Homo sapiens: one gene and its partner. The protein of the gene in region 1 interacts with the protein of each later gene in a pairwise test. Each region holds a gene or a part of one and is shown in the gene's direction. Other genes may lie near its edges.

Evidence for each region.
Region 2: the proteins of RGL3 (region 1) and KLHL12 interact in binary tests that used the Homo sapiens proteins (3 or more experiments, as listed by UniProt).

What each region holds. Positions count from the first base shown.
Region 1 is NC_000019.10:11,398,686-11,402,506, reverse strand, and holds part of RGL3 (ral guanine nucleotide dissociation stimulator-like 3), read left to right. Parts: coding exon 1-52; intron 53-259; coding exon 260-292; intron 293-374; coding exon 375-496; intron 497-2,209; coding exon 2,210-2,305; intron 2,306-2,398; coding exon 2,399-2,467; intron 2,468-2,537; coding exon of another isoform or gene 2,538-2,555; coding exon 2,556-2,652; intron 2,653-3,821.
Region 2 is NC_000001.11:202,906,568-202,910,388, reverse strand, and holds part of KLHL12 (kelch-like protein 12), read left to right. Parts: intron 1-1,264; coding exon 1,265-1,379; intron 1,380-3,821. UniProt on the Homo sapiens protein: Substrate-specific adapter of a BCR (BTB-CUL3-RBX1) E3 ubiquitin ligase complex that acts as a negative regulator of Wnt signaling pathway and ER-Golgi transport.

The sequences.
Region 1 (3,821 bases):
CTTCCTTACGGACCTGGTTATGCTGGACACAGCCCTGCCGGATATGTTGGAGGTCTGACCCCTGACCCTTGACCCCTGACCCCAGCTCCACTTGCCCCCAGCACAATGGGCCTCCCAATATCCACCCTTGATCCTACCTGTACTCCTGACACCACCCCACACTCCCTTACTACAGTGGGGCTCCTGACATCCCAGCCCCTGACCTTGACCCTTGACCCTTGACCCTGGGTGCTGCAATTCAGACACACTTTGCCCCCAGGGGGATCTCATTAACTTTGAGAAGAGGAGGAAGGTGAGTGGAGGCTACAGTGGGTGTGGTGGTGCCTGAGGGTGGGGGTGGGGCAGGGGTAGGGTCTTAGAGGCTCGTCCTCCAGGAGTGGGAGATCCTGGCCCGCATCCAGCAGCTGCAGAGGCGCTGTCAGAGCTACACCCTGAGCCCCCACCCGCCCATCCTGGCTGCCCTGCATGCCCAGAACCAGCTCACCGAGGAGCAGAGGTGACCACCCTGTAGCCTGTCCCAGCCCCACCCCAGCTGAGCCTGGGTCACCAACTGGATTCCACCCACTCCATACACACCTCCAGCTCCTCCCAAGACCCCCTCTTGAGCCCTGATCCCCCACTACAACCTGTGACCTTGCAGTATCTCCAGTCGAATCAAATAGACTGGGCCTGGTGGTTTACTCGTGTAATCCCAGCACTTGGGAGGCCAAGGTGGGTGGATCACTTGAGCCCAGGATTTCGAGACCAGCCTGGGCAACATGGCGAAACCCCATATCTACAAAAAAATACAAAAATTAGCTGAACGTGGCTGGGCACGGTGGCTCACACCTGTAATCCCAGCACTTTGGGAGGCCGAGGCGGGTGAATCACATGAGGTAAGGAGTTTGAGACCAGCCTGGCTAACAGAGTGAAACCCCGTCTCTACTAAAAATACAAAAAAAAAATTAGCCAGGTGTAGTGGCAGGCGCCTGTAGTCCCAGCTACTTGGGAGGCTGAGGCAGGAGAATGGCGTGAACCCGGGAGGCAGAGCTTGCAGGGAGCCGAGATGGTGCCACTGCACTCCAGCCTGGGCAACAGAGCGAGACTCCGTCTCAAAAAAAAAAAAAAAAAATTAGCTGAATGTGGTGTTGAGTGCCGTTGGTCCCAACTACTTGGGAGGCTGAGGTGGGAGGATTGCTGGAGCCTGGGAGGCAGAGGTTGGAGTGAGCCAAAATCACGCCACTGCAGTTCCAGTCTAGGTGACAGAGTGAGACCCTGTCTCAAAAAAAAAAAAAAAAAAATAGTCACAATTGACCTCTGACCTCAATTTCAACCCCATCTGATTTTCTGACCTCAACTTTAGCATTCAGCTGGCCATTCAACTCAACTGTCCCATCTGTTGACTTCCCCATCTTTGGTCCTATCTGACCCATGACCTTATTCATGACCCCTCATCTGACTCTCTGACCCCAACCCTTGACCCTCAGTTCTGAGTAACTGACTCCAACTTTTATGTTTGACTGTCCAGCTTGACTATGACAACTGTGTCCTTTCTTTCTATATAACTGTGACCCTAACCATTGACCCCAATGGTGACCTGACCCCAGTCTGACCCTGACTTTATTTTATTTATTTATTTATTTATTTATTTATTTATTTATTTATTTATTTTTGAGACAGAGTCTGGCTCTGTTTCCCAGGCTGGAGTGCAGTGGAGTGATCTCGGCTCACTGTAGCCCCCGCCTCCCAGGTTCAAGCAATTCTACTGCCTCAGCCTCCCCGGTAGCCGCAATTACAGGCGCGAGCTACCACACCTGGCTAATTTTTTTTGTATTTTTAGTAGAGACGGGGTTTCACTATATTGGCCAGGCTGGTTTCGAACTCTTGACCCGAAGCAATCCTCTCGCCTCAGCCTCCCAAAGTGCTAGGATTACAGGCGTGAGCCACTGCACCCAGTCCTGACCCTGACTTTAATCCTGACCCAATTTGATTCCTTAGTGCCACCCTGTGAATCTCTTTGTGACCTCCTGACCAGCCATCCTGTCCCATCTCTGATAAGACCTTGATGCTCAATGACCCTCATTTACCACCCTGACCCTGGCATGTGGGGTGCCACCTCTGGCTGCTCCCCCTTACACCCCAAACCCACCTCCCAACTGATTCCAACTCTTATCTCTCCATCCCCTGTATTTCCTGCCCCCACCACCTCATCCACATATTGACCCCTCAGCTACCGGCTCTCCCGGGTCATTGAGCCACCAGCTGCCTCCTGCCCCAGCTCCCCACGCATCCGACGGCGGATCAGCCTCACCAAGCGTCTCAGTGCGTGAGTCTCGGGGTGTGTGTAGGGGCGGTGATGTGGGCAGATATCAGCAAGGGCTGCTCCTGCCTTAGCCTCATCCCCTGTCCCCATCCTTAGGAAGCTTGCCCGAGAGAAAAGCTCATCACCTAGTGGGAGTCCCGGGGACCCCTCATCCCCCACCTCCAGGTGAGCATTCTGCTTGGTGATGGGACTGGGGATCATGGGATCAGGAGTCAGCACAGCCACCCCACCTCAGCCTCTGCATCTCCCCCAGTGTGTCCCCAGGGTCACCCCCCTCAAGTCCTAGAAGCAGAGATGCTCCTGCTGGCAGTCCCCCGGCCTCTCCAGGGCCCCAGGGCCCCAGCACCAAGGTACCAAGACGGCTTGTGTGTGCATGCGGGCCTGCGGGCACCCAGGCTCTGTGTGTGTGCACGTGTGTGTGCATGCACATGTGTACACACAGGATTGTGGGGCCAGGAGTGTATACAGGAGGCACACTGAGCGCCCGGGGTATCCATCCAGGGGATTGCATGCATCTGCACGGCCCTGTTTGGGTGATCACTCATAAATCCGACTCGTGCTCAGATTTGGACCTGTGTAACTGCTTGCCCATGGGTCATCTAGGGTGCAATCACATCACACCCCTTTTTATTTGAAACAGGGTCTTCTTGCTCTGTCACCCAGGCTGAAGTGCAGCGGTGCAATCTCAGCTCACCGCAACTTCCACCCCTCCCCCAGGCTCAAGCAATCCTTCCACCTCAGCCTCCCAAGTAGCTAGGACCACAGGTGTGCACCACCATGCCCTGCTATTTTTTTTATTTAGTAGAGATGAGGTTTCGCCATGTTGCCCAGGTGGGTTTCGAACTCCTGAGCTCAAACAATGCACTCACCTCGGCCTCCCAAAGTGCTGGGATTACAGGTGTGAGCCACCGCACCCAGCCTACACTTTTTTGAGGACATGTATGTCCCTAAGAATCTGCATACCATGGCAGACACGGTGGCTATTGCCTGTGATCCCGGCACTTTGGGAAGCCAAAGTGGGAGGATTGCTTGAGGCCGGGAGTTCAAGACCAGCCTGGGCAACATAGTGAGACCCTATTTCTATTAAAAGTCAAAAAAATTAGCTGGGTGTAGTCCCAGCTACTCAGCAGGCTGAGGTGGAAGGATCGCTTGAGTTTGAGGCTGCAGTGAGCTACGATCATGCCACGGCACTCTAGCCTGCATGATAGAGCGAGATCCTGTTTATGAAGAAAAAGAGACTGGGCACGGTGGCTCACGCCTGTAATCCCAGCACTCTGGGAGGCCGAGGTGGGCGGATCACGAGGTCAAGAGATCGAGACCATCCTGGCCAACGTGGTGAAACCCTGTCTCTACTGAAAATAGAAAAATTAGCTGGGTATGGTCGCGCACACCTGTAGTCCCAGCTACTTGGGAGGCTGAGGCAGGAGAATCACTTGAACCCAGGAGACGGAGGTTGCAGTGAGCTGAGATGGTGCCACTGCACTCCATCCAGCCTGGTGACAGAGCGAGGCTCCCTCTA
Region 2 (3,821 bases), on another chromosome or scaffold:
CATCTCAAACTCTTTTTCTCCTGTTTGTGATTTCTGTCTTTCTTACAACCAATTCACATATCCCTTGTGTCTAGTTCTTTACATTGTGTTTAGGAGCACAGACTCTGGAACCAGACTCGGGCCTGAAATCCCAAATTCACCACTTACTCTGTGAACTTAATATGTCTTAATATATTTGTGCCTTAGCTTTCTTATGTGTAAAACAGGGATGATAATAGTACGTTCCTCATAGGTTCTTGTTAGCATTGAGTAAGTTACTATGTGAAAACTTTTAAAACCAAGTCTTTGTACATAAGTGTTTACTACTATTTATTGTTTGTTTTCCTTTCCAGTTCGACTAAGAACTTCTTGGGTCAGGTTAATAGAGGTGCCATTTAATTAGAGCTGTGTCCTTTAGGGTCCCAACAGGAAACAGATGCTATACTCAAAACAGGACAATTTTAGAAGAGTTTTTTTTAATAAAGAAGCTGTTTACAAAGGCGCAAGTTCAGAGAAACAACAAAAGACAGTGAAATAACCTGGATCTAGGACATAAGCTATTAACAACCCCTAAGCCTGAAGGGACAAGGTTGAGGAGTGGTTACTAGAACCTTAAAGGAAAGAGAATCGTGTAGAGTCACTGCCTTGAGAGAAACCTTGACCTTTGGTTGGGCTGATCCCAACCAGAAGCTAGAAGGCATAGGAAGCCCTATTGACACAGTTCATATAGGCCAGTCTTCTGAGCCAGAGAGCAGAGTGGAAAAAGGTACAGAGTGAGTTGGGAGGCAAATGAAAGATGTCCAGTACAGAGCTGTCAGAAATAGACAATGGTAATTACAACAGGACTGTGAACCTTGGGGGAGATATTTCAGACAAAATATGATTCTTCCTGTCACCCAGAAAATAACAGAATCTTTTTGGTTTTCCCCTTAAAATTCTTATTAGTTATTATGTACTTGTGTTTGCATAATCCCTGGAAGGGCATCCAAACTATGTAAAAATAGTTAAATGTAAGCGCTGCGATAGATGGGAAATACTGCTCAACATATCTGTTTATATCATTTGATTTTTGATCCATCTAGTATGTTATCTATTTTTCAAGTAAATTTTAAAAATCATTTCTGGAAACCGAGAGCATGGTTACTACCAGCAATACTCCTGGAATCACAGGGCTTTGCAAACTGGTTTTCTGTAGTCAGAAGTTAATTATTTGCATGTGCTCTTTGTACTCTTATAGTATTACAGGTATCCCCAGTGCCTAACTCTGCTGTCTGCTATATTTCAGCCTTTCATCCGCTGTAGTTTACAATGCAGGGATCTGGTTGATGAAGCAAAGAAGTTTCATCTGAGGCCTGAACTTCGGAGTCAGATGCAGGGACCCAGGACAAGGGCTCGCCTAGGTAAGCTGGTATCTCGGCAGAATGAGGGGATGCTTTTCAACTACTTCTTGCAGGTGACAACATAGTTGAAAATAATACTCTATAAGAAGTACAGACACCTCGTTTCAGACCTTTTCTTCTATCATCTCAGACAAGTCACTTTACCACTCTAAGCTTTCTTTCCTATAAATCAAGGATGTCTTCTCTATCTACTTCACATAATTATTTGGAAATTAAATGAGATAAAATATAAAAGCACTTTATACATTGTCAGGCATTACATAATATGTTACAATTTTTTGTCAATATTATTTAGATTCTGTGAATTAGAGATAATTTTAGTGCCACATAATGGCAGGTAAGTAGTATATGCTTCCACCCACCTCTTCACTTCCCCTTATGTGGTTTTTCCATTCCGGAATGAAGAGAGGAAGAAAAGGAGCCCAGTGTGGTAGAAAGTACATGGGTTTTGGCAGTTACTGTTGGTGCAGGTACCAGTTTACCTCGTACTAGATTTATTAACTTGGGCAGGAACCTTAACCTCTGTGTGCTTCAGTTGCCTCATCTGTAAATGGAATCATCGTAGCACCTGCCTGTAACATTGTTATGAAGAGTAAATAAAGTTATTTATGTAAAGCCTTAAAACACTTCTTGGCACATAATAACTATGTGTATTAGCTATTATCTTAGCAAATAGACCTAGGTTCAAATCCAAGCCCCAGCAATGACTGGTTGGGCAAGGTATCAATTTATCTGAGCCTGTATGTCTACCACTAAGATGAGAGTTAGTGTCTTATCTCAGTGTTGGGAGGATTGAATGAGATAATGTATATAAGATACCTAACACTATAGCTGGCACACACTAAATACTCAGATATCACCATACTTTCCACTTCCTATTCTCTTTGCTTCACTGTCCAAAAGCCTAGGTGTATAGTGTATAAAAACATTTTATAAGTTATGAATTACTCTATATGTATGGGGTGGTATTTTGTTTTATTGTTTCCTTTTATCTGACTGAGGACTCATGATGCGTGCTAAGGTGTTAGTTGATAATTAAGCTGCTCACTGATGGGTTTAGGTAGAATGGTGATTTATCCGCTATATTTTATTTTTTTTAATAGAAATGAGGTCTCACTATGTTGCCCAGGGTGGAGTGCAGTGGCGTGATCTCGGTTCACTGCAGCCTTAGCCTCCTGGACTCAAGCAGTCTTCCCACCTCAGCCTCCCAAGTAGCTGGGACCGCAGGCACGTGCCACCATGCCTGGCTAATTTTTATATTTTTTTGTAGAGACAGAGCCTTCCTTTGTTGCCCAGGCTGGGTCTTGAACTCCTGGACTCAAGCAGTTCACCTGCCTTGGCCTCCCAAAGTGCTGGGATTACAGGCCTCCCATATATATATATATAATTTTTTTCCTTTTTTTTTTTTTTTTAAGACAGAGTCTTGCTCTGTCACCCAGACTGGAGTGCAGTGGTGCAATCTTGGCTCACTACAACCTCTCCCAGGTTCAAGCAATTCTTGTGCCTCAGACTCCCGAGTAGCTGGGACAACAGGCGACTGCCACCATCCCTGGCTAATTTTTGTATTTTTGGTAGAGACAGGGTTTCTCCATGTTGACCAGGCTGGTCTCTAACTCCTGGCTGCAATTGATCCACCCACCTTGGCCTCCCAAAGTGCTGGGATTACAGGCATGAGCCACCATGCCTGGCTCCCTCTCCTATATTTTTTAATGGCATAAGTACTGCATGTTCAATGTAGAACTTGTAGAAATACAGAGAAGCAAAAAATAAATAAAAATCATCCATAATCTTACCACTCAAAGATACTGCATTTTTTTAAAAAGAGAACTTTTAGATAGGGCATTGTAGATGGTATTTTCTACTACTGCAAGATGACAAAATGTGATCTGTGTTTCATATGCTTTATACACAGATACATATCAACACAAGATAGATTGAAGGACTGAATGGTGAAAAACTATGAGAATATTAGAAGAAATTATAGGAAAATATTTGTATACCTTCTGGATGGAAGTCTTTTTTTTCTTTTTTGTAAAATATATGTAACAGGCCGGGCACGGTGTCTCACACCTGTAATCCCAGCACTTTGGGAGGCCAAGGTGGGCAGATCACTTGAGGTCAGTAGTTCGAGACCAGCCTGGCCAACATGGTGAAACCCCATGTCTACTAAAAATACAAAAATTAGCTGAGTGTGGTGGTGCACACCTGTAATCCCAGCTACTCTGGAGGCTGAGGCAGGAGAATCGCTTGAACCCGGGAGGCGGAGGTTGCAGTGAGCCAAGATTGCACCATTGTACTCCAGCCTGGGCGACAGAGTGAGACTCCATCTCAAAAATAAATAAATTAATTAAATAAAATATATTTAGCATAAAATTTACCATCTTAACCATTTTTACATGTACAGTTGACTCATGTTAAATACATTGTTATACAATCAATCTC